Regions from separate parts of the Homo sapiens genome. Here region 1 is linked to region 2. Evidence: fine-mapped expression QTL. A gene starts in region 2. The other region holds a variant in brackets. All regions are shown on one strand. Distances are between the middles of the regions. Region 1 overlaps USP35 (ubiquitin specific peptidase 35). Region 2 holds the start of GAB2 (GRB2 associated binding protein 2).

Evidence for each region. PIP is the estimated chance that this variant, and not a neighbour inherited with it, causes the effect.
Region 1: its variant is fine-mapped to the expression of GAB2 in adrenal gland (GTEx, PIP above 0.99).

Annotation. Positions count from the first base shown.
Region 1 is chr11:78,211,643-78,226,280 of GRCh38, reverse strand. It overlaps USP35 (ubiquitin specific peptidase 35), which reads right to left. Exons shown (of 11, transcript NM_020798.4): 11 at 11,049-12,635. The coding sequence ends at 12,468. It overlaps GAB2 (GRB2 associated binding protein 2), which reads left to right. Exons shown (of 10, transcript NM_080491.3): 5 at 1,079-1,173; 6 at 2,605-2,869; 7 at 4,086-4,176; 8 at 4,502-4,604; 9 at 5,837-5,962; 10 at 6,866-10,988. The coding sequence ends at 7,009. Among named protein-coding and RNA genes, the nearest start is that of USP35, 30 kb to the right of the region's middle. RefSeq lists enhancers at 2,369-2,448, 2,489-2,758 and a silencer at 2,849-2,938. The variant G/TTTATTTATTTAAG (reference allele first, on the strand shown) is at 11,600.
Region 2 is chr11:78,410,989-78,426,104 of GRCh38, reverse strand. GAB2 (GRB2 associated binding protein 2) reads left to right here and starts at 8,285. Exons shown (of 10, transcript NM_080491.3): 1 at 8,285-8,459. The coding sequence starts at 8,385. LINC02728 (long intergenic non-protein coding RNA 2728) reads left to right here. Exons shown (of 4, transcript NR_120564.1): 3 at 700-768; 4 at 910-2,123. RefSeq lists enhancers at 5,560-5,609, 8,545-9,299, 12,249-12,378 and silencers at 7,896-8,515, 8,626-8,725, 8,796-8,925, 9,388-9,682.

The DNA of each region.
Region 1 (14,638 bases), 200 kb after region 2:
CTGTTAGTAGTAGTTGTCTAACAGAGCTAGCCCCAGAGAAGTTAATGTTCTACTAATGGAGAATAGGACATTCTTGATTAACCACAGTATAACATATTATGGGTTTAGAAGCCCAAATCATTGTATTTTATTCATTTGTAAATCAAATCAAAGATTTAAAAAATAAATTCAGAAGATCAGTCCAAACTGGAGTGAAACCTGTGTGGACTAACAGACTGCTAAAGCAAAACGAGGTCTTAATATTTTCTAAATCATACTTGAATCTCTTTGGTTGAAGTCAAAACTTTTATTTGAAGTACCTAAATTCTATTGTTACTTGTTTTCCACTGAGAGTATTCCAACTCTGCATGTAACCTCCTCTGTATGATGAAAAAATAGAACAATATTAATTCCTTTCATTTTGCATCTTGCTTTATGGTTTGCAAAGCCTTTTCTTGTCCATCCTGTTGTTTAAGCCAGGCAGAGAGGTTGGTGGGACAAAACCTCCTTGTCTCCATCTCACATGAGGCCAATGACAGTTAAGAGACTTAAATAGAGTTGCAGAGTCATTGTGCCAGAGATGAGACTCAGACCCTAGAGTCCCAGCTCCTAGTTTAGACCTCTTTGCCGTCTTTCAATCCATCGACAATTTGAGCAGTCATACTCCGTTTTGGAACTGAGATGATAAAGACATACATAAAACATGTTCCTGCCCTTCAGAGCTTACATCTCATTGGGAAAATAAAACCAACACATATAAATCAGGACAAGTATTGTTACTGTGGTGTTCAGAGAAGTGATGGCTGGGGTGAGCAGGACAGGTGAGTGGTGTAGGAGTCAAAGGAGAGGTGCATAGATGAGGGTAGAGTAGTCAAGGACAGCTTCTCTGCAGATGCTAACACTGGAGCTACATCTAGAAGCCCAGGAGGAATTTTTGAACTGAGGAGTGATGTGTTCGAAGAAATTCCTTATCATTTGGGGTTGAGAGTAGTATCTTCTGGAGTATCAGTAAGACCTTGAACCACACTGGTGAGGGTATGGGTAAGTGTCAACACATGAATCAACCATGAGTACTTATGAATCCTCCTTCCTCTGTCAGCTTCTTCCTGTGAGACCTACGAGTACCCACAGCGTGGTGGAGAGAGTGCAGGCCGGTCTGCTGAATCCATGAGTGATGGAGTTGGCTCTTTCCTGGTGAGTGTGGGTTAACCCAAGGGTCCTCAGGCCGGCCTGGTTAGGTAAAAGGTCACACCTTATGGAATTAAAAGCACAACCCCAAAAGATTGATGGCGTCTCCATCTTAGGACCCTGCCCAAGTTCTTGTCTCAGTTCAGAACCCTGCGTTGAGTCTTTGGACAAGTAAGATATAAGTATTCTAGTCTGGAAGAAATGTATGTGCTAAGGTAGACTGGATTACAAGGTTCACCAACCTTGTAGGTAAGCAGAGGATCTAGAATGCAATAGACCCAGGCTGCACGGTGGGGGAACCTCTAAGACAGCAACCTTACCCACGTGGCCTCACATGCAGGAGGGAGGCTGCAGTGTGAGACTCCAGGCAAGGGTGGTACTCACAGTCAGGCTAAGTGGCAGAATTATGGCTTGAGTGCAGGATCCCAGGCTGCCCTCTGGAAGATGCTAACCGCAGTTCTCCAAGGTGTCAGGCAAGAAGACCAGGGCCTGGCTTCAGGCCCACTGAAAAGACAGTGAAATCAGGTAACCAAGGCAGAAGCAGCTTAGTTGTATGTCACGGCAGATAGAGCAAGAGTTAGAGGAAGGCTGGGATTGCTGTATCACACAACTCTGTAGAAGCTCTGACTGCAGCTTGGTGGTCCCCTAGGTGCCTGGAGTGAGCCCCAGGTACTTAGAAACCTGGACTGGGGAAACACAACTGGCCCCAGACCTCACCTTCCAGAGCCAGGACTCCTAATATGCTCCTTGTTCTGATCCAGGGCCTGAGATGCTGACCTGCCAGTGGTGAGTCTGGACTTGAGGTGGAGGGCAGGTCCTGAACCAAACCTACAGTCTATGGACTATGCCACCCACAGTGTTGGTCAGGCGTCCAGAAAGCCAAGTGGACCCAGTCACCAAGAATATTTTATACTCTAGATTTATCAAAAATTATTAGTGGATGCCAAAGGATCGTGAAGGCTTGAAGGGGCCCACAGACCTCATATATTCTTGTCTCCCACTCTGCTTCCTTTTTTTTATTTTTTATTTTTTGAAACAGAGTCTCACTCTGTCACCCAGGCTGGAGTGCAGTGGCATGATCTTGGCTCACTACAACCTTGGCCTCCCAGCTTCAAGCGATTCTCGTGCCTCAGCCTCCTGAGTAGCTGGGACTACAAGCATATGCCACCACGCCCAGCTAATACTTTGGATTTTTAGTAGAGAGGAGGTTTTGCCATGTTGGCCAAGCTGGTCTCGAACCCCTCACCTCAAGTGATCCACCTGCCTCAGCCTCCCACTACTCTGCTTTCTTATTTGGTCTCCCCAAGGTCTCCCTTACAGCTTCAAAGTATAGCTAACCCAGTCATGACTTGTCTTGCCTCATTTACAAAGTCTTACCCCCTTCCTGTTTCTTCTTGCTAGTAACAGCTGTATTTCTTTCACTGTTCCTCTCCCTAGCCAGGGAAAATGATTGTGGGCCGATCGGACAGCACCAATTCTGAAGACAACTATGTGCCCATGAATCCAGGTTCTTCCACCCTGTTGGCCATGGAACGAGCAGGTGATAATTCCCAGAGCGTCTACATCCCAATGAGCCCAGGGGCCCATCACTTTGACTCACTTGGCTACCCATCAACAACCCTTCCTGTGCACCGAGGCCCCAGCAGAGGAAGTGAGATTCAGCCACCCCCTGTCAACCGCAACCTCAAACCTGATCGGAAAGGTAAGTCCATTCTTTCCCCTGTCCCATCTCTGGACAGTGGCTAGGGACTCTTTCCATTTGCTTAGGGGTCATGTGGATCCTGGACTTGAGAGGTGTGACTTGGGGCAAATCATGTAAAATCTGAGTCTCAGTTTTCTTATCTGTGAAATGCAGATGGTAATTCCTACCTCCCAGGTTTGCTGCAAAGGAGAGCATCTAGGATAGTACTTTGGTACATAGCAGGCGTTCAGTAAAGTCAGCTTTGTGCCCCCTGCATGTAGACCAGGCAAGGTCCTCGTCTGCTACAATCTCACTCTCCTGGCATTGGATCAGTGGCAAGGATTCAAAGGGAGGAGTAGGATAGCTAGGCAGAGATAGCCCCCTGTGGGTCTGGCCAACAGGGAATTCAAATCTTAGCATTTGGAACTGAAGCCCTCAAGCCCTTATGGCATCTACCTTCCTCCACTGTGGCTTGCACCGACCTGGCCAGGAGCAGCAGGGAGTAGTCACGGTGACCATCTATACTTCAAATATGGTCTCTTGGCTGGGCGCCATGGCTCACGCCTGTACGCCTGTAACCCCAACACTTTGGGAGGCTGAGGCGAGTGGATCACCTGAGGTCAGAAGTTCGAGACCAGCCTGGCCAAAATAGTGAAACCCCGTCTCTACTAAAAATATAAAAATTAGCTAAGCGTGGTGGCAGGCGCCTATAGTCCCAGCTACTAGGGAGGCTGAGGCAGGAGAATCACTTGAACTCAGGAGGCAGAGGTTGCAGTGAGCTGAGATTGCGCCGCTGCACTCCAGCCTGAGCAACAGAGTGAGACCCCGTCTTAAAAAATACATATATGTGTGTTAATATATAAATAGTATATATTTTTATAAATATTAATATATTAATATATAAATATATTTTATATATAGTCTTTTATTTTTAAATGAAGTCATAAATTGAGGGAGAAAAATCTGTTGTCAAACCCTGTGTCCCCACTTTTGATTCTGAAAATATAATTACCATAGATACAGCAGAAAGAATATATAATTTGGAATCTGAAGACATGACTTCAAGGCTCATCAATATGGGCAAAGATTATACAACCTCGCTGAGCGTCAGTTTCCCTGTGTGAAACTGGAATGACTTTGCAGGCCTTTATAAACATGCTCATGTGTTATATATAAGGTGTGTATGTGTAGCATTATCATTACTGGCTGATTACCAGACTTTCTTTTCCTGCTCCAGCAAAGCCAACACCACTTGACCTGAGGAACAACACCGTCATCGATGAACTCCCCTTCAAGTCACCTATCACCAAGTCTTGGTCTAGGGCCAAGTAAGTGCGTATGTGTGGGGGTGGGAGCTTGGAGTCGGGCCATTAGGGAAAATGAGTGATGTGGTAGCTGGCCTGTGGGCCGGGACAGCTGGATTCTGATGCTAACGCTATCATTAGCTGATCATGTCTCGATGTCTTGTGGCTTGGTTTCCTCAGCTGTAAAAGAGAATAATTATACCTGCCCTATATCAGATCTTAATCTGATGGAGTGTGCAGCTCTAATGGCTGAGGTCTGGGTGTGTGAGGGTCAGGGCCCAGCTGGAGGCTAGAAACATGGCAGCAGCCATGCAGCTTCCCCAGTGTTAACTCTTCCTTCCCACAACAGCCACACCTTCAACTCCAGCTCCTCCCAGTACTGCCGCCCCATCTCCACCCAGAGCATCACCAGCACAGACTCAGGAGACAGCGAAGAGAACTATGTCCCTATGGTGAGTCCTTCGGGCTTCGCTGGAATGACGCCTTTCAAGTCCCCTGGGACCCACCCCTCAGTTCCCCACTTCCCAGCTTAGCTAACTCACCTCAGCCCAGGGACTCCTTGTATTATTCATGATTTAGTCTCCTGCTACAAACCCTTCTTGAGCACCTGTTTATCAAGCAGTAGGAGTTGTCATCAGATGTAAGGAAGACATGAGACCTGTCCCAACGAAGTCATGGTCTTCAAGAGCAGGGGCCTGCCTCTCATGACAGTGACATGGGTGGCATGATCTGTGCCCTTGGATAGGCAGTGCTGGAGGTATCTCCTCAGTGGTGGAGGTATCTCCTCAGTGGTGAGAGGCATACGTGCACATAACTCACTTTGGTGAGGCCATAATAGAGCTATCAACACAGGCAGAGGAGGATATTTCTTCCCTGAGATTTCCATTAAGGGCGTAACTGCCCAGCACCTGGTAGTCACTGCATAGATAGTGAAAGAATGAATTAACCAACCAGTAAAGCAGCCAACAAACAGAACACAGGACTATCACCTTCTCATTAGAATAAGACTTCCAGAAAGTTCTAGAGGAGGTGGTGCTCTGCTAGAGCACGAGCCTGGATGGACAGGATCCTAGAGCGTGTCATCTGAAGAAATGCGGGCTTGTGCAGCCTGGAGATGAAGCCACCCTCTTCAGATCTTGGAGGAGCTAGGCGGGGGAGCAAGCTGCTTTGGGGTGACTACCCCACTCTAGGCCACAGGTGGGAGTTTCACAGGGGCTGATTTGGTGCGACAGAAGAAAACTTTCCAGTGCATAAAGGAAATGTGCTCCTTTCTTAAGCGCCAGCAAGCAAAGGCTGGATGTCTCAGGAGAGCCACTGTTGATGAGACTTGGCCTGATGTGCTAGAAAGGAGGCAGTGTGGTACAGGGGTTAGCACAGGTTTGGAAGTCAGAAAACAGACCTGATTCCCATCACTCAACAGCTGTGCAGCCACAGGCAAAGTCACTTCTCTGAAAGTAAAGTGAACCACAGTTTCATCTTTGCTTTAAACAGTATCAACAGTAATCATACCTACCTTACAGGATTGTCATGAGGATTAAAATGAAAACATGAAAAGTCCTTAGCATGGTGCATGTGTCAGAGTAGGGCTCAGGGAAACAGTGTTCTTACTCCCAGAGGTGTTTTTCTGGGTGGTGGGTTAGTCTGTTTTCTGCAGTCACTCACAGTTTTTTCCTCCTCGTGACAGCAAAACCCAGTGTCTGCATCTCCCGTTCCCAGTGGCACGAACAGTCCTGCCCCTAAGAAGAGCACCGGCAGCGTTGATTATCTGGCCCTGGACTTCCAGCCGAGCTCCCCAAGCCCCCACCGCAAGGTGCCTGGAGTAGAGTTGGGGGGGCAGTAAGAGCTCTCAGGGTCCCGGAGGCAGAGATCATGGAGGCCAGGGTGCCTTCAACACTGAACAGCAGCACTCAGCCTCCCTCCTGCTCCAGTACCCAGCTTTTATGATGCATCTTTAGTCATAGAGCTTTCATCTAGGTCTAAAGACTCCTATTCCTGCTCTCAGAGCACAGTACCCTCAGTCAGAGAACCTCATCAGTCAGCCCATCCCCCGTGTTGTAGAGATGGGCAAATGAGTGCACAGAGATCTGATTGTCCTAAGGTTACAAAGTGAATCAGCAACAGATCCAGGAATGAGGATACTGCCTCCTGGTCCTGGGCTCTCGAGTGGGTCCAGAGCCCTGCCGTCGATACATCAGCCTTCAGAAGGGACTTCCAGGCCTGGGAAAGCCTCCCCAGGAGGCATCCTTATAGCTAAGCAGTCTAGACAGAAGGGTGCAGAGCTGTGCCTCAGCATGGTTCCCCTTCACAGGGTGGCAGTGAGCACAGCACGTAAAGTCCTGTGGCTGATGTTTGTTTGCACCTAGCAAATTCCTTCCCCTGGATGAGCGACCTGACAGAGATGGGTGGAGGCAGAGATGAAGGCCTGGACCCATCCACCAGGGCCAAGGAAGGGCCTGGGTCCTCCCAGAAGCCGGGAAGTAAGAAGGGCTGGCAGGTGCTGCTACATCCTGCAGGAGGGATGATGAGTTTGGAGTCTGAGCTTTAAAGCCCACATTCAGAAAGAGAAGCCAGGCTCCTGAGGCTGGTCAGTGGCAGGCAGAGGCCATGCTCTTCTCCCCTTCAGACAGCTCAGGAAGATCCCGTGCCCACCTTCTTCCTCCCCACCTAACTGGTAACTCACAGCTACTCCCTCTTTCCCACTCTGTCCCCTCAGCCATCTACTTCATCCGTCACCTCTGATGAGAAGGTGGACTACGTTCAGGTGGACAAGGAGAAGACCCAGGCCCTGCAGAACACCATGCAGGAGTGGACAGACGTGCGGCAGTCCTCAGAGCCTTCCAAGGGTGCCAAGCTGTGATGAGAGGGCCACCGCAGAGCCCAGGAGGCAGCATCTCCAGAGCTGGCCCTTCCCATCTCCCCTCTCCCCTCTCCCGTTCTTCCTCCCATCCACCTCCTCTCTACTCTGCCAGTCTCAGCCTTCAAAGCACTTGACATCAGGGACCCTGAACCCTTCCCCTGGGAGGTGAGGGCCTGATCAAGGCACCTCCTCTGCCCACTCGGGGCCCAGCTGTGATTTTTATCAGTAATGGCCATGCCTCCACCCACCTTAGTTAGGAGCTACTTCCAAAAAGCATCCTTCAGCCTCTTCCTGTCCTTTAGACCTGACTCTCTACCAGATGTTTGGAGGGAAGGGCTGGGGCTCTGAGCCAGATTCCACACCTCACGTTCAGTCACAGCCCTCAGCTATCTTCCCTCCGGCCACTGGGCTACCTCTCCTTCAGTCCCAGAAGACAAGTCTCACCAACCCAGGGAGTCAAGGACCAGCAAACCAAAGTGGATAATGGACTTTTTCATTCCTGTTTTTCTTGGCAGGAGAGAAGCAAGGCCACTAAAAGAGGAGATGGTGGAGACGGAGGCTCAGCAGTGGTCTTGAGGGGTAAAGGACTTAGATGCCCAGATGAAGAGGGAAAGCTGACATCTGCAGGGAACCCACTTTGAGGCTGAGGCCATGGCAGGACAGCTGCTGTGGGGTGCAGAGGCAGAAGATGAAGGACAAAAGGAAGGGAAAACTGATGGCCAACCTAGAGCAGCAAGGAGCAGGGCTTGGAGCTCGGGTGGTGGAGATGACAAGGACACTGTGGGGTCTGGGTCCCCAGAACTCTGGAGCTACAGGCCACTCTAGGCCCAAGGGCTAGTCCTCTTCCCCAGTCCCCTCAGAGGCCCCCGCCAGCCCCACCTTGAAAGCAGCATACAGGGGAAGGCTTGGACCAAGCTGGGCGACCAAGCACATGGGGCAGGAACACATGGTAAAGGGGTGGGGAATATGGGAGGGAGTGTGGTGTGGATGGGGGTGATGCAGGGACTGAGGGGAACCCTGGGACAGGCACAGGCTGGGCAGAGGCACAGGGCAGTGCAGGGGACTCTGCAGTGGGGTCGGGAAGTGAGTTTCTTTGCAGTGAGCAGTGCAGTGGAAGTCGGGCACAGAGGTAGCAGACAGATGTGAAGCAGTGGTGAAGGCCATGTAGCAAGTGGGGAAATACATCCAAAGGGCCTGGGAGTTGGGGGGTGCCCAACGCAATCCTTGGGGGTGCAGGGTGGAGCAGAAAGTGAAGGAGGGACACGTGCAAGAGTGGTGTGCATGGTGGTGTGACATGAGGACCGTTCCTAGGATGGGACAGTGGGTCAGGCAGGACAAGGAGAAAGCAGGGCAGAATGATGCCTAGAGGACCACATCAGGCATGGCTGACAGCTTGTGCCCATGGGCTGTGGCGTATGTCAGATCGCAGGGTAGGAACGAGTCTGGCCTGGTGCCGGCCCAGTGTTTCCTCAGCTCATCCGCCCTCTGTTGCTCCCTAGCATTCCAGGAGCCATCTTGGACTCTCCTCCCCAGGTTTGAAAGGCCATCAGATTAGCAGGGACGGGGTGTAGGGCATCACCCAAGGTTCCTTCTCTTAAACTAAGGGTGGGGGATCTGAATGTTTTTATGTTGACTGTTCTTGACTAAATTTTCAAGAGTTTCAGAAGCAACAGGACAGACCAGACGTTTCATTCTACCCTGGGGCGAACAGAACTTCTTCCTCCCAAACAATGACTTCCTGCCATGTTTGATGGGGACAGCTACCACTGTCCTCTGCCCCCATTCCCCTTTCAGCTCCCATGAGCATGCATAGTTCACCAGACCAATGGCCTAGCCATTCTCTAAGTCCCATCCTGGAAGAAGTTATTTCTTCAAGAGCTGCACCTCTCCTCCTAGCATTAGTTTAGATCAACTCAAGGAGTATTTATTAATGGCTGCTGTCTCCAGTTTCTGGGGTTAAGCACTAAGGACACAAGAATCAATCAGACCTTCTCCCTGAACTTAAGATAGCCACAATCAGAAAAAGGACAAGGACATGAGACAGTGGTGATGGCCATCAGACAGAGACTTCAAATGCTGATGGAGGGCAGAGGAAGTACTTAGGGAGGTTGGTGTCAGAGGCAGGAGTGGGGGATCAGGGAAGGTGGATTCTAGGAAAAGGGAGTGCCTGAGGTAGGCCTTAGAAGGGGATGAGTCAGATTTTTACAGAGGAGGAGGGCAGGGCTTGGGTCCAGTGGAGGAAGAAGGAAGGAGAGGCTTGGAAAGCCTTGTGTCTTGGGAACAAAAGGCCTTTGAGCATATGGGTCCAGCCACTCAGAAGTGTAGGGGCCATGCCTTGGTGTTCCAATAAGTGAATGGAAGCAGTGGTGGTAGCTACACTGGGCAGAGTTGGCAGGGTGCTGGTTCACTCTGCCCAGCCCTGAATGTGTGCCTTAAAGGCCCCCTACAAGGGGCCCCATACGACAGAGCTTTTAACTGGTGCCTTCCCTGTACCCGCAGCAGCCACAAGTGGGCCCAGACTATTGCAGCCTCCCATAAACATGTGAGCATGTTCTGAGTGTGCCATGATGTGAGTGGACCTGGCTGGAATCTTCGGAGAGCGACTGAGGTGTTCAAATCGAATCTCCCAGGAGGCTTCCTTCCAGCCCCCTATTCTGGTAACTACCAGGAGGCTTCCTTCCAGCCCCCTATTCTGGTAACTACCAAAATCCCTCGGGTGCAAGTGTAGGGGTAGAGATGGAAGGATGAGAGGTGAAATTGACCTTTTGAAAGCAAAGCTCTGGCTCACAGGCCCCAAACTACCAGCCGTATCTAGCATATCCCCACCCTCCACCCACTACCTCCTCCAACAAAGGAGTCAACTCAGTTGAAAAAACTGGTCCTTTGGCCTATCCATGGGTCAAAGTCCACCTCTCCTGGGGGCCTGGAGAGGACTGAGCCTACGGAAAGGGGATACCTTCCCACTCAGCACTGCTTCACACAGGCCCCCTGCCTGGGGCTCTCCAAGGAGCCTTCTTCACCCACTTCCAGCTCCACTTCTGCAAGGTTAAGTCAAGTGAGAACGATGAGAAATAGGGAGATGGTGTCTCCTTAAGTCCTTGATCTGCCTGTCTGTGGAATGGGAGGTTGGATTAGCTGCGCTGAGGTCCCATCCACAGCTGGTGCTCAGCTGCTTGAAGGGGAGACTCCCTCCTCTGTAACTTCTTTCTGGGGGATTGGGGTGGGCAGTACCTATCCCCAGTCCCCTCCTAGCTTGACTTTAGTGGTTTCCAATGTAGAAGTTAACAAAGTATGCCCCATTCCTGTGACAAAAGCACAACCATTCTGAAGTTACTGGAGCATGGGCTCAGCTCATCCTCCCTCTGGCCCCTTCTCCCATGGGGACATCTCGGCCCAGCACCCCTATCCCATTTCCAGAGTTCTTCCTTCCCCATCTGGGCCTTCATAAAATGCAGGGGAAGCCAGACTGGTCTCAGGAGCGCTAAAGCCCTTCCGTGGGGGGTCGTCTTTCTGGGACTAGCCCTGCTGTTTAGGACCTGGGACCACAATGGGGTACCTGCCGAGGGGGTCCCCAAGAGATCCAGGCTGTCATGTGATTTATGGTGGCATGTGTTGTGTATTTGTTGGCTACTTGTGTCTTGAAATCTAGAATTATTTCACGCAGAATTGTCACTGTTTGTCAGGAAGAGAAAATGGGCTAGTGGAAGCCCAGTCTTGAGTTCTTGTCTTGTTACCATTTAAAATTGACATTTAATTTTCAAATCACTGTTGGTGCCTAATCACTTAAGTTATTAATTTATTCTGTTGTATTCTTTTTTTTAAATTGTAACATATTTATCCGGTGGGTGGGACAGGAGTGTGTTCAAGTGGGTCATGTTTTTGCTGTGGTGACACATGGTACAGGCTTGGAGCTTGCAGGTCCCTTTCTACTGTGGTGTTGGAGCAGGACAATAAAGTCCACTAGAAATGCACCCCAGAACCAGCTGCCGTGTCCATCTTGTCTTGAGGGGCTTGGTGGTGGAACCCGTTCTCACTCCAGTCTGTTCCAATTTTTGCTTTATTTGGAAATAATTGGGTATTTTTCTTGGCTGTGAATAAGAACAAATGCTCTCTACCTCAGCGTCTGTTGTAAAGTGGAAATCATACTAGCATTTACCCATCCAGCTTTCTTAGGCGTCTAGAGATGGGTTCTGGGCGTGTCTGTCTGCTGCTTTCACAGGTCACTTAGATGTGACATCTTGAGGGTCTGTGACATTGGGCCCAAACTCCACACCACCATCACAGCAGGCAGCCCCTGGGGAAGGAGGTAGGTAAAGGCTTGAGAGCTGCCTCCCAGGTGCATCCTCTCCACGGGCAGCATCACCCAGCCCTCAGTAAGGTAAGTAAGTCAGTCAGTCCACACGTTTACTTACACCCCACTTCAGTAGATTCAGTAGAGGGCTCTTGGCTCCCTGTGGCATCTCACACGTCACTGGGGGGCAGGCTGAGTCCTGGCCTCCCCAGACCCCGTGAGCAAAACCCAGTGGCCATCACAGCCCCTGAGTCCAAGGAAGAACAATCTCTTGCTTAGGCTTACTTTTATTTATTTAT[G/TTTATTTATTTAAG]AACATGGGTGTCTGTCTTGTCTTCGGTTAGAAGTTAGAAGGGGGCTACAGCAGTGTCAGGGCACTTCACCCAACCTGCAGGTGGCTGCTGTTGCAGCTACAAAGGCCAACTGCTCAGAGGAGCCCACAGGCTTCCTAAGAGCCCACACTTCACAAGGAACATGAACACCTTTGCAGTAAAATCAGGACTCTAACCACAAGGGGGATACAAGTGGTGGCTTCTCAGGCCCTGAGGCAGGCGTGGAGGGGCTGTGGGGGCAAAGGCCTCCTGCTGTGAGAAGCTAGCCCCCCGCCCCCCCCCCCAAAACCATGCAGTGGCGCTTGGTAAGGGGGCAGGTCTCGGTCTCTGTTCTTCTCAGAAAGGTACAGACAGTGCAGGTACCCCCCACCCCCATATGAGAAACAAACAAACAGGACAGCCAGAGGAGACACTGCCCCCCCCACCCCTTTGTGCAAGGCTTGGATCCTGCTGTGCTTTATACCGTACAGCAGTCGGAAGGAAAATAGTACTTGATGTCAAAACATTGGAGCTGAGGTCTAGCCTGTTTCCTGAACATCATCAGATCTTCCCGCATGGGGAGCCTGCTAGGGAAGGAGGGGGAGGCAAAGACCCGTGTGTGCCCATCTCGGCTGCTTCAAGTTAACCAGGACACTTGGGTGTAAAGTTTTAATGGGACTGATCCCCAATGAAAGGGACTTAGGTCTTACTTCCATATCTGAGAGAATCTCTGTGTACCCTTCATCAGGCTGAGGACTAAGGTGCCATGAGCTGTACCATCCTTCCTCTTGGTAGGGCCTGCCTCCACAGCTTCCCTCAGGCCCTACCTGGCTCCTGGAGGGAAGGGGTCAGGTTGGCAGCAGGTTCACATTAGAAGACCAGTCTGTGGAAGTCACCACCATTGCCACCTGCAGGATTGCAGCCCCCTGGAGAGCCTTCATCCTCATCCTTGTCTTCATCAAAGCCCCTCCCCCAGTGCGGAGATGTGGGGAGTGCAGAGATGTAGGCCGCCCTGCTCCGGGCCTCCTTCTCCTGCTCCTGGGAACACAGATGAGAGGAGACTTAGACTTAGAATTCACACCCTGAAGCCAGAGTGAGTCTACCCAGCACAACACCTTTCAATGTTTCCTCTAGGTCCCCAGGGCCTGGACACACAGAGACATTGCAGCTCAGTGGCAGGATATCCGGGGTGGACACCTTCAAAAGACTTCAAAAGACCCCCTCCTCTCAATAAAAACTCTAGTCCCTGAGCCAGCTGATACTAGGGTGTGACTGACTAGCTGACAAGGGCCTAATGTGGTACCGAGAGGTCTGAGGACTTCGAGGGTCATATCACACCACACGGGAACCTGTCCGCAGGCCTCATGATCACGAGGAATGGGCTCTGCCTATGAGAAAGCCCATCCTCCTGCTACCAGGACGTCAGCCTCATGGCGATCCTTACCCGCCACCCTGCCTCCATCTGGACAGCATGGCAGAAGCTGTCCCTGAGAGCCTGACTCAGCCTCAGGCCCCTCCCTGGGCTGCTGCTGGTAAAACAGCACATAGGCTGTGTCCTTGGGGAAGAAGGAGTTGATGTTGGTGACACCCGGTCTGGTGTCCCCACACCAGTTGCTGTATTCCCCCGCACAAAACACAAACTCCAGGCACTGGCACCCATCCCACTGGTCAAAGCCCATGCTGTTCCAGCTGCTCAGTATGCCAGTGCCACCCTTGACTCTAGGGAGTCACACAGGAGGCTCACGTGGGTAGTGGGACCCCCTCCCCCCACACCCGAAGCATCCTCCTCCCCCTCAGACTCAACTGGTCCCTGTACTCCTCCTTCAGCACACTTATTAACTGCATTAATGGGGTTTTCTAGATGATACAGAATCATGTCATTATCTCATCCCAGGAGCTTCTTAAGCTGTTAAGCAACTTCAGCAACTCTCAAGATGATACATACAAAAACCAATGTGCAAAAATTGCTAGCATTCCTATACACCAACAAGAAGCAGGGAGCCAAATCATGAACAAACTCCCATTCACAACTGCTACAAACAGAATAAAATACCTAGGAATACAGCTAACAAGGGAAGTGAAGGAGAGGACACAAATGGAAAAACATTCCATGCTCACAGATAGATAGGAAGACTCAATAGCATGAAAATGGCCATACTGCCCAATGTAATTAACAGATTCAATGCTATTCCCGTTAAACTACCATTCACATTCACAGAATTAGAAAAAACTATTTTAAAATTCATACGGAGCCAAAAAGTCCATATAGCCAAGACCATCCTAAGCAAAAAGAACAAAAGTGGAAGCCTAATGCCTACCTGACTTCAAACTATGCTGTTTTGCTTACTGTAGCCTTGTAGTATAGTACTGGTATAAAAACAGACACATAGACCAATGGAACAGAATAGAGAACTCACTCAGAAATAAGACTCCACACCTACAACCATCTTCAACAAACCTGACAAAAACAAGCAATGGGTAAAAGATTCCCTGTTTAATAAATGTTGCTGGAAGAACTGGCTAGCCATAGGCAGAATGTTGACATTCGACCCCCTCCTTATACCTTATACAAAAAATTCACTCGATGGATTAAAGACTTAAATGTAAAACCCAAAGGTATTAAACCCCTAGAAGAAAATCTAGGAAATACCATTCAGGACATAGGCATAGGCAAAGATTTAATGATGGAAACATCAAAAGCAATTGCAACAAAAGCAAACAATGACAAATGGGATCCACTTAAACTAAAGAGCTTATGCGGAGTACAAGGAACTATCATCAGAGTAGACACAACCTACAGAATGAAAAAAAATTTTTGCAAACTACCCATCTGACCTAAGTCCGATATCCAGAGTCTACAAGGAACTTAAATGTCCAAGAAAAAAACAACCCCATTAAAAAGTGGGCAAAGGACATGAACAGACACTTCTCAAAAGACATTCATTCATGTGGCCAACAAACGTACGAAAGAAAAATTCAACATCACTGACCATTAGAGAAATCAAAACCACAATGAGATACCATCTCACGCAAGCCAGAAT
Region 2 (15,116 bases):
TATGTCAATCAGGAATTACTTAGATGGGAAATTCCTGATAAAATAAGATGCAGTAGGAGGGTAAGTGGCTTCTTTGCTTTTCAAATTTTTTAATAATCTAAGTCACAAAAACAGAAAGCAAATAAATGGAGGCTTATTTACAGAGGGGATTGGACACGTCAGACCTTTTTTGGAACCACACAATTGGATTTAAAAGATTTTGAAGAACCAACACATTTGGCAGCTTCCCAAACCATCTATTTTTGAAGATTCTGCTTTCCAGAACTGTATTAAGAATGGCCCTTGTCATGGGCGTTAGCTGTGTTTCAGGCTAGCCAAAACTAAAAACTGGAAGAGACTAAATAAGTATGTGTGCATGTAGAGCAGCCCAGACCCTGCAAGTGGACTGACCATAAACAATGATGGCCAAATCTATGAAAATAAGATAAAGACCTTGCTCTTCAGAAACAGTGCCAGATGTGTTCAGAGCTTTGTATACCACACTCTTTCAGCCCTGGTATGCCACACCGTGAATTTAGTGTTCACTTACAATAATCATTTTGAAAACATGCATGGAAAATACAGAGGAACTGTGAACTGCTAAAATCATTTGTCTGGTTCAGGAAAGTTTCAGAGGAAAATCTCGGGGCTTTTTCCTAGAATGTTATGAAAATATTAAATTATACTGATTGCTGCCAACATATTTTCTAACCATTCTAGGAAAAGAAAAAACAACAAAGTTTCCAGCTCTTACTCTAGATTGACACTGGACCTTGGAGATGCTTGCAGGTAATTTGACTGCACCTACTTTCCTTTTTTGGTTAATTGTGTTAAATGTGCCTCATAACTTACATTCCCGGTGAGGCTGTCATTTAGAAGGGGTGGGTGGGGGCTGAGGGGAAGCTGTTTTAATTCTGGCTTTTGTTTCAGCCACTAAATGTAATGCCACATGATTGTTGACCCAACAATAATCCAGTTAAAAAACAGTCTTCAGAGTTACTACATCATCAGAATTAACCCTGATTACATCAAATTATGTTGAAACAGACCACAGCTGTTTGCCCTGTTGAAGCAACTGCTTGAGAGCTCCTCCGGAAGATACATCTGGGTGTCACTAAGATACATTTTGGGTTTAGTTTTGTTTCTCAACACAAATGTAGGAGGGAAACAAACCCTGTTCTGCTGGGGTGCCTGGTGGGAGCTGAAAACCTTGTGATTCTCCAGCAGTCAAAAGTCATCTCAATTACCAAAGAGAAGGGAACCTGAGATCTTTTGTTTCAGTTTTCTATAGGAAGGATGTAAGAGGAAGGAAATTCAAATCTGTTGAGTATTGCTCTTGCCAGCAAAAAGAAGTGGAACTGACTAGTGAGATGGTGGTGAGATTTTCTTTGGTGGCTGTGTGCAGTGGTATCAACCCAGGAGAGTAGACTGTTCAATTGTGAAGAATTTTGCAAGATGGTTGTTAAAGTAGAACATCGTTAAAATTAAGTTGTAATAAAAAAAGGGAAATAAGCATTGGAAAAGATGTGGACAGATTGGAACCCTCATACATTGCTGATGGGAATGTAAAATGGTGTAGCCACTGTGGAAAAAAGGTCAGCAGTTCCTTAAAAAGTTAAACAGTGTCACCATATGACTCAGCATTTTCACTCCTAGATAAATACGTAGATTGAAAACGTATGTCCACACAAAAACTTGTACAGGAATGATCGCAACAGCATTATTCATAATAGCCAAAAAGTGGAAACAACTGTAATGTTCATCAGCTGATGAATGGATAAAATGCGGTATATAAAGAACTGTCAAGTGCTTCAACATGGATGAAACTTGAAAACATTATACAAAGCGAAAGAGGTTAGACACACAGGTCACATATTGTATGAATATGGTTATGTGAAATGTCTAGAATTGGCAAATCCATAGAGATGAAAAGTAGGTTAGCGGTTGCCAGCTGATGGGATTGGGGGAATGGAGAGTTGCTAATGGATATGGTGTTTCTTTTGGGGTAATGAAAATGTTCTGGAATTAGATAGCTGTGGTGGTTGTCAAAGTTGATGAATATATTAGAAACCATGAATTATAAACTTTAACATGGTGACTTTTGTGATACGTGAATATCTTAATTAAAAATTAAGTTATATAAACTTATAATTAAATAAGTTATATTAAAAAGAAAGGTAGTAACTACCCCAAACTCATCACTTGGCTAATTACATTTTACTATTGTGTTCTTGGTGTTATTTATGTCTATTGTGTCTTTATGTTGGAAATACTAAATAATGGTGTATTACTGTGTATCTCTTAACTCTGTATTCAAGGACATTAACTTGATAGCTTAAAACTGGCCATGGCTGGCAGAGTATTTATGCCACAACAGTTGGCATATACTGTAAATCAAGGCACCCACCAACACCACCAGGGAGCCAATTTTAAAATATTTGCCAGCACATCATTGGCTATATTGTCGGACAATCATCTTGGGTAATTCTGGTAGAATTATATAGTTAGATGAGGTGAAATCCTGAGGCCTCTAGGTTCCCAGCAAAACAAAGACTAGCAAGCCTGCACAGTTACTATGCAATTTATCAGGTGCAGAAGGAAATGACGTTTCTGGTCATCTGTTGAATAAAGCCACTTTGAGTTCAGGGGACATGGTTTTCTCCAGCTTCACTAGTGTTGCATCTGGTACAAGGGGTTAAGTGCTAAACCCCTGTAGGATTGTCACAGTGAAGCCAGATAACAGAGTAACCGCAAAGAGATTTAATTCTGTAGTCCCACAAAGGAGGGTGTGTAAAGAGTGTACAACAGTGTCAGAGTTTGGAAACCAAGGGTTGACAAAGTTGGTTCTCTGGAATCTGGGGGTACCAGTTAAAAGGTTAAAAGGAGTCATTGTTTTCTGAAACTATCCAAGAGTTACAGCCATGTTTTTTTGTTTTTGTTTTTGTTTTTAAGATTTCGGGGGAATCTTATTTTCTCACATGTTTCTGGAATTTTTCTTTTTTTTTTAATTTAAGTTCCAGGGTACATGTGCAGGATGTGCAGGTTTGTTACATAGGTAAATGTGTGCTATGGTGGTGTGCTGCACCTATCAACCCATGACCAAGGTATTAAGCTCAGCAAGCATTAGCTATTTTTCCTAATGCTCTCCCTCCCCCAACCCCCTACCCACTCACAGGTCCCAGTGTGTGTTTCCCTCCCTGTGTCCTGTGTTCTCGTTGTTCAGCTCCCACTTATAAGTGAGAACATGCGGTGTTTGGTTTTCTGTTCCTGTGTTAGTTTGATGAGGATAACGCCTTCCAGCTCCATCCATGTCCCTGCAAAGGACATGATCTCGTTCCTTTCTATGTCGAGTTACAACCATTTTTAAAAGTGGAACTGCACAGGATTACCTCAGCCTGCTAAGTCCTTCCAGCTAGGCCGTCCCTGTGGGTTTAAACGCAATGTAAAGAAAGTGGATGTTAAGTGTTCTTACCACAAAAATGATAACTATATTAGTTAATGCATTTGTTAGTTAGCTAGATTTAACCATCCCACAGTGTATTTTATGTATTTGTATTTATATTTCAAAACATCATATTGTACATAATAAACACATCGATGTTATCTGACAATTTTTATTAAAAAAAACCACTCCAGCCACTTATAGGTACCTTCACAAATACTATTCTCTGGTTTGTATGGATCAGAGAGTTCTAGATGTTCCAGTAGTCTACAGCCCCAACCTGTCATCCTTTAAGGGTTGGTTCCTTCATTCTCACAATGAACATTTAATGAGCATCTATTCTGTGCTGGTACCATGCTGGGAAGCTCTGGGAATACAAAAATGAGGAAGGGCCAGATGTGGTAGCTCATGCCTGTAATCCCAGAACTTTGGGACACCAAGGCAGGAAGATCACTTGAGCCCAGGAGTTTGAGACCACTCTGGGCAACATAGCAAGACATTGTCTCTAAAAAAATAATAAGTGAGAAAAACACATTCATGTCTTCAAGGAACTCACAATTCCTCGACAAGGAAATATTTGCTGTACAGTGTGATAATCCAATTTATATAAGTGCAGTGTGGATACCAAGAAAAGAGTGAACAACTTTGCTGGAGAATGGGGACAGTCAGTTTTAGGGAAAGAGGTCTTGACGTATGTTCAAGATCTAATTCAAGGTAGGAGTTCTCTCTGCAGAGCAAATAAAAGGAGCCAGCATTGCAGAGTGTGGTTTGGAAGACTACAGCACTTTCTCAAGGATCTTGACAGTCTTTGTTCTTGGTGGATTATGACAACTGATTTACCAGTGTCAGCAGCAAAGTCGTGGGAGCCTAACTGCCACAGAGCCATTAGCACTGATTCTGGTTATTTTCAAAGGAGAAATTGGGAAAATGGGATTGCTCAAGCTTTTCTCTAAGAAAGTTTTTTTTTGTTTGTTTGTTTGTTTTTTGAGACAGAGTCTCACTCTTGTCGCCCAGGCTAGAGTGCAATGGTGCGATCTCAGCTCATTGCAACCTCCACCTCCCAGGTTCCAGCAATTCTCCTGCCTCAGCCTCCCAAGTAGCTGGGATTACAGGTGCCCGCCACCACACCCAGCTAATTTTTGTATTTTTAGTAGAGTTGGGGTTTCACCATGTTGGCCAGGCTGGTCTCAAACTCCTGACCTCAAGTGATTCACCCGCCTCAGTGTCCCAAAGTGTTGGCATTGCAGGCATGAGGCACCGCACCCGGCCAAAAGTTTATTTTCAAAATGTCTCCCACTGGGTATAGTGTCAAGTAACTCTCAGACTATTAGCCACAGACAGGGAGGAAACCCAATTAGGTCTTTAACCCCACCCCATTCCCACTTCCAGATCTCATCCTCAACCAGATGCCCAGAGTTGACTTGAGTAAGTTAAGGTAATTTGATATAGGGAACCATGTGGGCCTCAAGTAACTAGGGGTTAAAGAAGCATACACCTTTATATGCCTGAGAGATGAGTGTCCTGAAAGACACCAGCTGAGGTGGTTCAGCTGGTCACACTGACCTTCGTAAGCAGCACTCAGTTCTGAAATTAACCTGTCAACTAAATTGAAGGGGAGAAAAAGCAGAAGGGCTAGCACACAAACATCCATCCCCACCCCCAGTCCAATCACTGACGTCAGGCCTGGCGTGGGTGGTATTAATCACACAAGCTTGGTGTGCAGTTGAGGACAGCTCTCCTTCCAGCCCTTCAACCCGTTTCTGAAAGCATTCCACCAGCCATGCACCTGCCGCTGGCCACAAACCCTCAACTCCCAGACAGGCACGGATGCAGCGACGGATGTCCCTGACGACACTCAAAGCCACAGTGCACCCTTTAGAACCCCAGGCTTTGTGGGGAGTGGGAGTAGCTATGAGCGGGGGCCAAAGTGGTACCCATGCTCTCCCAGTGTGCATTTCTCTAATCTCTGCAGTGCTCCCTCCTCATAAGATAGTCATTTCCTGAGAATTTAATAAGAATATAAGATTAATGACCCAAAGCACTCTTGGAGCCGGCGATTAATTCCCCCAGGAAATACCAGTGGTCTTTAAACAAAATTGCCTAAATTATGGGCTAGTGATGCATGTCCGCTCAGGGCTTGGGGGTGGGGGGATTGTCACCCCAACTGGTTCCGATAGATGGCGCCTATCTTCATGTAAATCATTCAAATGATTTGTTTTCCATTTTTTTCCCAGCAAAAACCGGGGACCATTTAAACAGACACACACAGCAGGGAGTGGAGAGGACTTAGTAAAAGCCCAGACAGGAACTTTCCGTCCAAGGGTTGTTTCCAGGCCTGGCACGCCTCTCAGGCTCAAAAGACTGAGCCACTCCAGGGTGCAGCCAGGGACTTGAGCAGCAGTCTTGCTTCCTATGCACAGCCCGAGATGGGCACTAGCAGCAAGAGGGACGCAGGGTGGGAGTCCAGCTGAAGAGCACAGTAAAAAAGCCCCTTTCGGCCGGGCTCACGCCTGTAATCCCAGCACTTTGGGAAGCCGAGGCAGGCGGATTACGAGGTCAGGAGATCGAGACCATCCTGGCTAACATGGTGAAACCCCGTCTCTACTAAAAAAAAATACAAAACATTAGCTGGGCGTGGTGACGGGCGCCTGTAGTACCAGCTACTAGGGAGGCTGAGGCAGGAGAATGGCGTGAACCTGGGAGGCGGAGCTGGCAGTGAGCGGAGATCACGCCACTGCACTCTAGCCTGGGCAACAGAGCGAGACTCCGTCTAAAAAAAAAAAAAAAAGCTCCTTTCTTTAACCTTTGGGGAAAGATGGGGGTGTTCAGAGAACCCTTCCCAAAGTCGATACCTGGTGACTGTTGTATTCATATTTCAAGGTCCCTCCTGCCATTGGCCAAACAAGAAACATCAAACTTTTCCATTTCCACATGAAATTGTAAATAACACCATCTTTTCCTAAGCAAACAAAATAAGACTTTAAGGAATTTCTGGCAGAATATGACCTAACCCCCACTAACTCTTGCTAAACAGTCTTCCAGTCTGTGTATTGAATCATGTAACTATCAAAGGATACGTAAGACTACTCTTCTGGGGGAAGATAGGGCATACGTATGCCTGACTTGCATCACAAACCTCAGCTGCAGCCAAACCATGCAGATTTCTCCGACTCTGCAATCTCTGGGACTTGGCACCATGACTCAGATGTGAATGAAGTCAGGATAGTTTTATTTTGGTTGGAAGTCACCGCCTCCTGATTGATTTGGCAGACGTTAAGTGTTGTTTGTCTTACAGGGATTTAAGGTACTTAAAGCCAGAAGTTAAAATGGCCATCATTCTGGTGGTGGCCCTTCATACGTGACTTAAGGATCCCTAAATTGTAAGGTTAAGGGAGCTGTGGTCCCAGCCTACCAGTTCTGGCTTTACTTCCCATCCAGCAGCACACTGGATATTGAAGAAAGTCAGTGAAATGTTAGATCCAGGGGACTGACCGCTAAAACTCCCAGGGTATCTAGAAGAGCTAAGTACGTGGTAGGGGATTCGCTTTTCCAAATTGAGGAGGGTGAACTTCCCCCAACCCAATCAAGATCTTTTGGACCAAATGATGTCCAACTGCTTGAAACAACTCAGCTGCACAGAGACAGAAATAAACAAAACAGCTTTAGTCTGAGGTTGTGTGGGGCACTGCAAGATGCTGCTTCTCCAATTCATCTGTCCACACAGCACGGTTCCCCATTGAATAAACAGGTTACTATCCACTTATCAGAGAAGTTAGGGAGGACCTGCCTTTTAATGCTGCTTAGAGAGACACTTTGTGATGAGAAAAGAGCTCGTACAAAAGATTTTTTTCTCCCCCCTCCCGCTGAAGTGCTGGGGTTGTGTGCTTCCACGTACATCTGGGATACCATTATATTTACAAACAGAGGTCTCATAGCCTGTGTCAATGAGCGGGAACGTTGGGGAATTTGGACCCCAATTTCTTGTTCTTCTGCACTTGACCTTGCCTTCCAATTCGTTATGAAATACATTGACTAGTTTTGCTTCTTCCATTCTACAAATCATGCGAATTTTCTATACTAAACTGTGTTTTCCCAGAGGCAGTGTAGGAGGGAGTCAGCTGGACTTGGTTTCCAGGCAATGAGAGGCTCCCAGGTCGATCCCATTAAGGCAATGCCCTCATTTTGAATAGCAGATGACCGGGACCCCTCCTCCCCCACACACCTGAATTGGAAAATTGGCTCGGCTTTGTACAAGCCCTTGCCCTTAGGCTGTCCATAAAATAGGAACAATACTGAAGACAATCCTGTAAGCTACAAAAGCAAAGGCTCCGGCGCGTAGTAGGTCCGTCTCCTCCTCCCGCCGAGGGACGCCAGAGTTAAGGAGCTTCTTGCTGGGAAGGGGTCCCTCCTTTCAGCCGGAACCTGACCCGCAGAATGTATCGGAAATGTGAGCAGCCCTAGTATCCCTTCCCCGTCGACGCTCGGTGAAAAATCGATCGACGACCGAGGGCGCGCAGTCCCTTCCCCTCACACCCGCCAGCGCCAGGGGCGCGGTCGCCTCCCTGGCCTCCGCGCCCGCGGCTTGGGGCCTCAGGAGAAAGCGAGACTCCGGGGCGCGCCGGCGGCGGTGGCTTTCTGTATCCTCGCGGGTCCCTAGCCCCGCGTCCGCGTGCGCGGCGGCCTCGGGGGCGCGGCGGGAGCGGGCGTGGCGAGCGAGCCGGCCTTCCTGCTGCAGCTGCTCCCCCGGCGGCCGGGCGGAGAGTGCGGATTGCGCGCGCTCGGGGCGGGGGAGCGGGCGCGCGCGAGGCTGCCGGGCTCGCGCCGCGCCGCGCCGCCTAGTCCCCGCCGGGCCGCCCGCCCCGCCCCTGGCCTCCCGCGAGCTGCGCACCGCCGGCCGCTGCCCCAGCTGCCCGAGCCCGCGCCCTCGTCCGCGCGACCCGGCGGGGGGCTCCAGGCCGGCAGCATGAGCGGCGGCGGCGACGTGGTGTGCACCGGCTGGCTGAGGAAATCGCCTCCCGAGAAGAAGTTGAGGCGCTATGTGAGTGCGGGCGCGGCCGCCCAGGGGCGGGCGGGGGGCGCTCCGGGGCCTGCGGAGGGGCGGGGGACTCCCGGAGGGGCGGCAGGCTGGGGAGCTCGGGCCCGGAGCCGCGGGGGGCCGGGGGCGAGGAGCGGCCGGGGGCGTGTGGGGCACCTGCACACCTGTCACAGGTGGGCCGCCGAGGGGCGGGGCGGGCGGCAGGTTGAGGCTGCGGCTCCTGCTCCGCCAGGCGGGTGCGGCTGCGGCGCCTCCCAAGCCGGTCTGCTCGTGAACTAAATACAGTGTCGAAGTTTTGTATTGATGGCTTCTGGAGACCGAGAGAGTTGACTCTCGGGGCTGGGGCTCCGCGGCAGCCCCGAGCAGCTTCAGCCCGCAGGGTCGGGGAGAGGGCGGGAAAGGGGGGCGTAGGCTGTGGGGCCGCGCGGACGGCCCCACAAAGGGCGAGCGCCTCACGCCCTCTCCTTCCCTTTCTCCGCCTGCCCCTCCCGGCCGCCGGCCTCCCTCCGTCCGCGGCTGCATCACCGGCAGCGTCAGCGGCATGTGCAGCCCTTGTATTAAGTGACTCATTTGTTTGTCCCCCTTCTTTCCCTTTATTCCGTTCGTCTCTCACAGGCGCCTCCCCCCGACCCCGGTGTGACACTGCAGTTTGGTCCCCGTGGCTGGCCCGGGTTTGGGACCGGGCAGCTCCCGGGTGTCTGGGGTCGGGAGAGATCGAGGCTCTCCGCGGCCAGGTGTTGCCAACCGACAGTGTTTACTGAGATCGCTGGAACAGCCTTTTCCCTCTAGGTGGGGAACTGGCAGCCTGGGGGAGGTGGAACAGCGTGGCGCTGAGCCGTGGAGTTCTGGCTTTTTTTTTTTTTTTTTTTAACCCCTCTCCCCAGAGGATGCCTTGCCTGGTGAGGTCAAAGTACAAGATGGTGCCAGTTACTGAGATTTGGCCGAAATGGTCTTGGGGTAGTCGCGGGAGTTTGGAAGTGGGGGTAAGGTTGCTGGAAGGTTTCAAGGTCTCTCATCTGCTCCCTCTCCGTTTCCCATGAAATGCCCTTGTTTAACGGGCTGTGGTGCCGAACTCCGGGATCACTCCCACAGCCTGGAAGGGAGCCGTTGCCTCCAGCTGCAGTGCATCAAGGGAGCTCGGAATAGACCCTGCCCTCTGTCAGCTGCACCAGTGGCTGTCCATGGGGGGAGAGGCAGAAGCCTACCAGAATTTCCTGTCTTGGCTCCCCAGATCAGAATCAAGGGACTTCTGGCCTCTGGACTGAGGAAGTGACATTCTGTTTTTCAAAGGAAGTGTTGTTGTTGCGGAGTACAAGTGTGTGTCAATGAAATCAGGCTCTTAGGTAGATGTTTGCTGGGGGAAAAAAATCTAAGGATTTAGCACATGAGTTTTGAAAGTGGACGTGGATTTATAGGAGGAATGAAGCAGTGAATTGTTCATCTCAGTTCGGAAGCTCATTTTTAGGAGTGTCTATGTAGCCAAAGTATAATTATTAAGAAATAAACTTTTTTCCTCTTCAGGGTTGTATCAGTTCGTTAGGAAGGTTGAATATTTTAATTAGGATTAAGGAGCAGTGATTTACTATTAACAATTTTATAAATAATTTAAAAACTTTGTCCCGAAGAGCTTCCAAAAATTATCTATACAAATAGATTTCCATACAAGCTAGTGGAATACAGTGTCCACAGTAAAAAAAAAAAAAAAAAAAGTGACCCTTAATTTTCAAGTTTGAACACTATACACTAAAGAACCTTGAAAGTTGTTTTTGAAACAATTTGCAAACAGTATGACACTGTATCTACATTTGACTTATCGCTCCTTGAACTCTCACCCAGACTCTATGACCCATTTCTTGGGTGTTTTTGTTCCCAAACAACTTTAGTTCAAAATAACCAGGTTTGGAGGCATTTGGGTCAAGCACCTTTTTCACTGATTTGAACGAATCTAGTCGTATGATGGCCTTAGCCTCTCTTTCCCATCTTCCATGTACCTTCAGCCCATCAGGTGTCAGACCTTAACAGCTTTAAGTAACAGCTTTTCTTAGGTTAGGATGTGATGTGTTCACTTACATGACTGGAAGCCTCTGCCCCTTCGGAAGTTCAGTTTCCCCCTAACTGAAACTGGTGATATGTGTAACCTTAAGCCTCTGGGGAACAGTATGCCTTTACATCTACTTTTCTTTTGGGGTATTCAGAATTTTTGCATCCTGTTGTAAGTTAAAACTCTGCTAGTTTGCTTATTTCAGTAGAGGCCCGAGTTCATTAGAACCAAGCTTGGAAAGTATTTCCCAGCCCCATGGCTGTATATTTACCCCAAAGTAGCTGCTGCTTCTGGTATACATCATAGGCGTGTTATATTGTAGATTGAGAAATCCTCATTATAAGAATACATCGAGCATATGTGATAAGGGGAAAAAGTAGTTGAACTAGGTTATAACTATTTAAAACGATTTTTTAAAAAACTGACTTAATTTGAAGTCTGGGCGCAGTGGCTTATGCCTGTAATCCCAGCACTTTGGGAGGCTGAGGCGGGTGGATCACTGGAGGTCAGAAGTTCGAGACCAGCCTGGCCAATGTGGTGAAACCCCGTCTCTACCATAAATATAAAAATTAGCTGGGCGTCATGGAGGGCATCTGTAGTCCCAGCTACTCAGGAGGCTGAGACATGAGAATCGCGTGAGCCCGGGAGGCTGAGGTTGCAGTGAGCCGAGATCGTACCACTGCACTCCAGCCTGGGTGACAAAACGAGACTCCATTTCAAAGAAAAACAAAAAAACTTACTTAATTCGGAAAGACGGGAAGGTGTAGAGGGGAAAAACATCTTAGAAGAAGCAAAGGCAAATGTTTGAGCAATTAGTTTTCAGGGATTTTTTTCATCAGCCTTTTCTAGTTAATTAAGTATAAGTATAAGAGACCTATCTGCTATTTACTGAGTGCCCTGGAGAAATTGCAAAAAGTGTCTCTGGAAAATGCTGACTATTGCCTCTGGGGCATCCTGATATGGCTGCAGTGGGAGGCCGGCAGAAGTAACAACCCTCCCATCGTGCCTCAGTGTATTTGTGTGTGTATGCGCGTGCATGCAAATGCATACACACGTACATGTATATAATTATTAAACAGAATTTTCTTGAGGAAAAACATTTTATTAATATGACCTACACTGCATTGTAGTTTTCTATCAATTTCACTGGATTAAAAGATTGAGGGAATAAGATTGGCAGACTACCCCCTAGTGGCTAACTTGAAGAAAGTTGTGCACAAATTGTAAAGAACTACTGCATTAAGGTAACAGTAATTGTTTATTTCCATTATATTTATTAAATATACTTATTAAATCTATGTCCCAGGCACTGGATCAGGTGCTTGGAATAAAAATCCAGTAAACAGAAAAAAAAATTAATCCAGTCTTTCAGTCTTAGCAATGGCTTTGCCTTCTCCTTCAAAGGAAAATTGAAATGATGAGGGAGTAGTTGTCTGTACGTACGATGAATGGCCACATTTTCAAATTTACTTGTATCTGCATAGTTCCTTTCTTTCTTCCTTTTTTTTTTTTTTTTTTTTGAGACAGAGTTTCACTTTTGTTGCCTAGGCTGGAGTGCAATGCACGATCTGGGCTCACTGCAACCTTTGCCTCCTGGGTTCAAGCGATTCTCCTGCCTCAGCCTCCCAAGTAGCTGGGATTACAGGCATGCATCACCACACCTGGCTAATTTTGTATTTTTAGTAGAGATGAGGCTTGACCACGTTGGTGAGGCTGGTCTTGAACTCCTGACCTCAGGTGATCCACCCGCCTCGGCCTCCCACAGTGCTGGGATTACAGACAGACATGAGCCACCGCGCCCAGCCTGCATGGTTCCTTTCTTGTTTCCTTTTCTTAGAGTAGATGAAGTGCCACTTCTATCTGAGCTAATCCTGCTACTTATACTTTGAATCATATCTTCTCCTCCCTACTCAAATAATTCTTATCCTGTAACACATCTTCAACTTCTTTCCCTCTCTGTACTACCTACTTTTTTTCAGGGATAAACTTGGTGGTGGTTTATGCAGTCTTCCTTTCTCCCACCTTCTTCTCAGTCGGCTCCAGTGGAAACCTACTTTGTTATTCACCAAAGCTATTCTGACAAAGGCACCAGCGATACCCAGGTCACTAAACTCAGAGGATGATTTTTTACTCCTCATTTTAATTAATCTCTTCACTGCTTGGTCATAGTTGACCACTCTTTTTTAAAACACCTTCCTCTTATCTTGGCTGACACTATAAATGCCTGTTATTTCTCCTTTTCTGGCTACTCTATATTTCCTTTGCTAGACTGACCCTTTTATCCAGTCCTTAAAGGTTGAAGCTCCTTTATAGTCATAGTGGCTGTGTGGTTTCTCCCCTTTGGCAACCTTGTCCATTCTACTGGCTTCAGTTATCATTTGCATGGTGGTCATCAAGTTAAATTTCCATCTCAGAGTTGTGTTCTGAACTTCAGACTTACATATCCAACTGTTAACTGGGCATCTCTATTTGAATGTTTCCCAGTCAACACAAACTCACCACTTCCAAAACTAAACTCTTCTTTGTTCATCTCTTCACTCCACATCTGCTCAGTAAACAGTGCCACTAAGCACCTACTTGCTCAGATGAGAAACTTGGGCATCATCTTTGACTCCCCGTCACCCACTATCCCACATCTAATCTGTCACCAAAACCCATTAGTGGTATCATCTAAATATCTTGTTATACGCTTCTTCATCCCCACTGCCATGACTTTTAGGATTATTTTAGTAGCCATCTGTTGAGCACTTACTTTGTACCAGGCACTATGCTTAGACCATTGATCTTTTAATGTAGTAATTTAGCCCTATAATAAGGGAAGCAACTTACCCAAAGTCATCTAGCTTTGTCCTAAAGCCTGGGCTTTTTAAAAAAATTAAACATTTCATTTTGAGGTAATTCTACATGCACATCTAGTTGTAAGAAATAGTAAACAAAGATTTATGTAGCCATTATCCAGTTTTCCTTAATGGTAACATCTTGCAAAATTATAGTACAGTATCACAACAGTATATTGACAATGATACAGTCAAGATACAGAGCATTTCCATCATGATAGGATTTTTTATGTTGCCCTTTTATAATCGTATTCACTACCATCCCACCCCTACCACATCCTTAATCTGTGACAACTACTAATCTGTTCTCTGATATTTCATGTGTGTTATTTAAATGGATTCATGCAGTACTTAAGATTTTGAACTTTTTTTTATTCAGCATAATTCTCTGGAGATTCATCCTCATTTCATGCATCAATAGTTATTGTTTTTTATTGCTAAGTAGTATTTCATGGTATGGATGTACCACACAGTCTGTTTATTTAACCATTCACCCGTTAGTTCTCATTTACATTTCCCTTATGGCTAATGATGTTGAACATCTTTTCATATGATTATTTGCCATCTGTATATCCTCTTTGGTCAAATGTCTTCAAGAATTTGAGTATTTTATATATAGGTTTTTTTTTTTTGAGATGGAGTTTTGCTCTTGTTACCCAGGCTGGAGTGCAATGGCATGATCTCGGCTCCCCAGGTTCAAGTGATTCTCTTTGTTGTTGTTGTTGTTGTTGTTGTTGTTTTTAGACAGATTCTCACTCTGTCACCCAGGCTGGAGTGCGGTGGCACAGTCTTGGCTCACTGCAACCTCTGCCTCCCAGGTTCAAGCGATTCTCCTGCCTCAGCCTCCTGAGTAGCTGGGACTACAGGTGTGCGCCACCATGCCCAGCTCATTTTTGTATTTTTAGTAGAGACAGGGTTTCACCATGTTGGCCAGGATGGTCTCAATCTCTTGACCTCGTGATCCGCCCACCTTGGCCTCCCAAAGTGCTGGGATTACAGGCGTGAGCCACTGCGCCGGCTTTCCTGGTTTTTTTTTTTCTACACATTTTACAGGTTTATGTTTTTCCTTTAAGTCCGTGATCCACTGTGAGTTAATTTTCATGTAAGATGTGAGACTTAGATTGAGGTTCTTTTGTTGTTGTCATTGTTGTTGACAAAGCCATCCTACTTCCATTGAATTGCTTTTCCGTCTTTGTCAAAAATCAGTTGGACGTATTTGTGTGGGTCTGTTTCTGTTGTCTCTGTTTTGGTCCATTTTTCCATGTGTCTGTCCCTCTGCAAATACCATAGAATCTTGCCAACTCTAGCTATATTGTAAGTCTTGAAATCTGGTAGCCTGATTCCTCTACTTTATTCTTATTTTTCAAAGTGTTTTAGCTATTCTATTATCTTTACCTTTCAATACAAATTTTAGAATAATCTTGTTTATGCAAAAAAAAGAAAGTCTTGCTGAGATTTTAATAGGAAGTGCATTAATCCTGTGTACCAATTTGGGAAGAAATTACAGCTTTACTATATTAAATCTTCCAGTCCATGAATTTATTTTACATTTATTTATATATGTCTTTCTTCCTTCGTTTATTTTCTTCTCCTTCCACCATCCCCCCCCCCAACCACCCCCACCAGAATCTTGCTGTGTCACACAGGCTGGCGACAGTGGCACAATCATGGCTCACTGCAGCCTCAAATTCCTGGGCTCAGGTGATCCTACTGTCTCAGCCTCCCAAGTAATTGGGACGACAGCTGCGTACTGCTGTGCCTGGCTAATTTTTTTTTTTATTA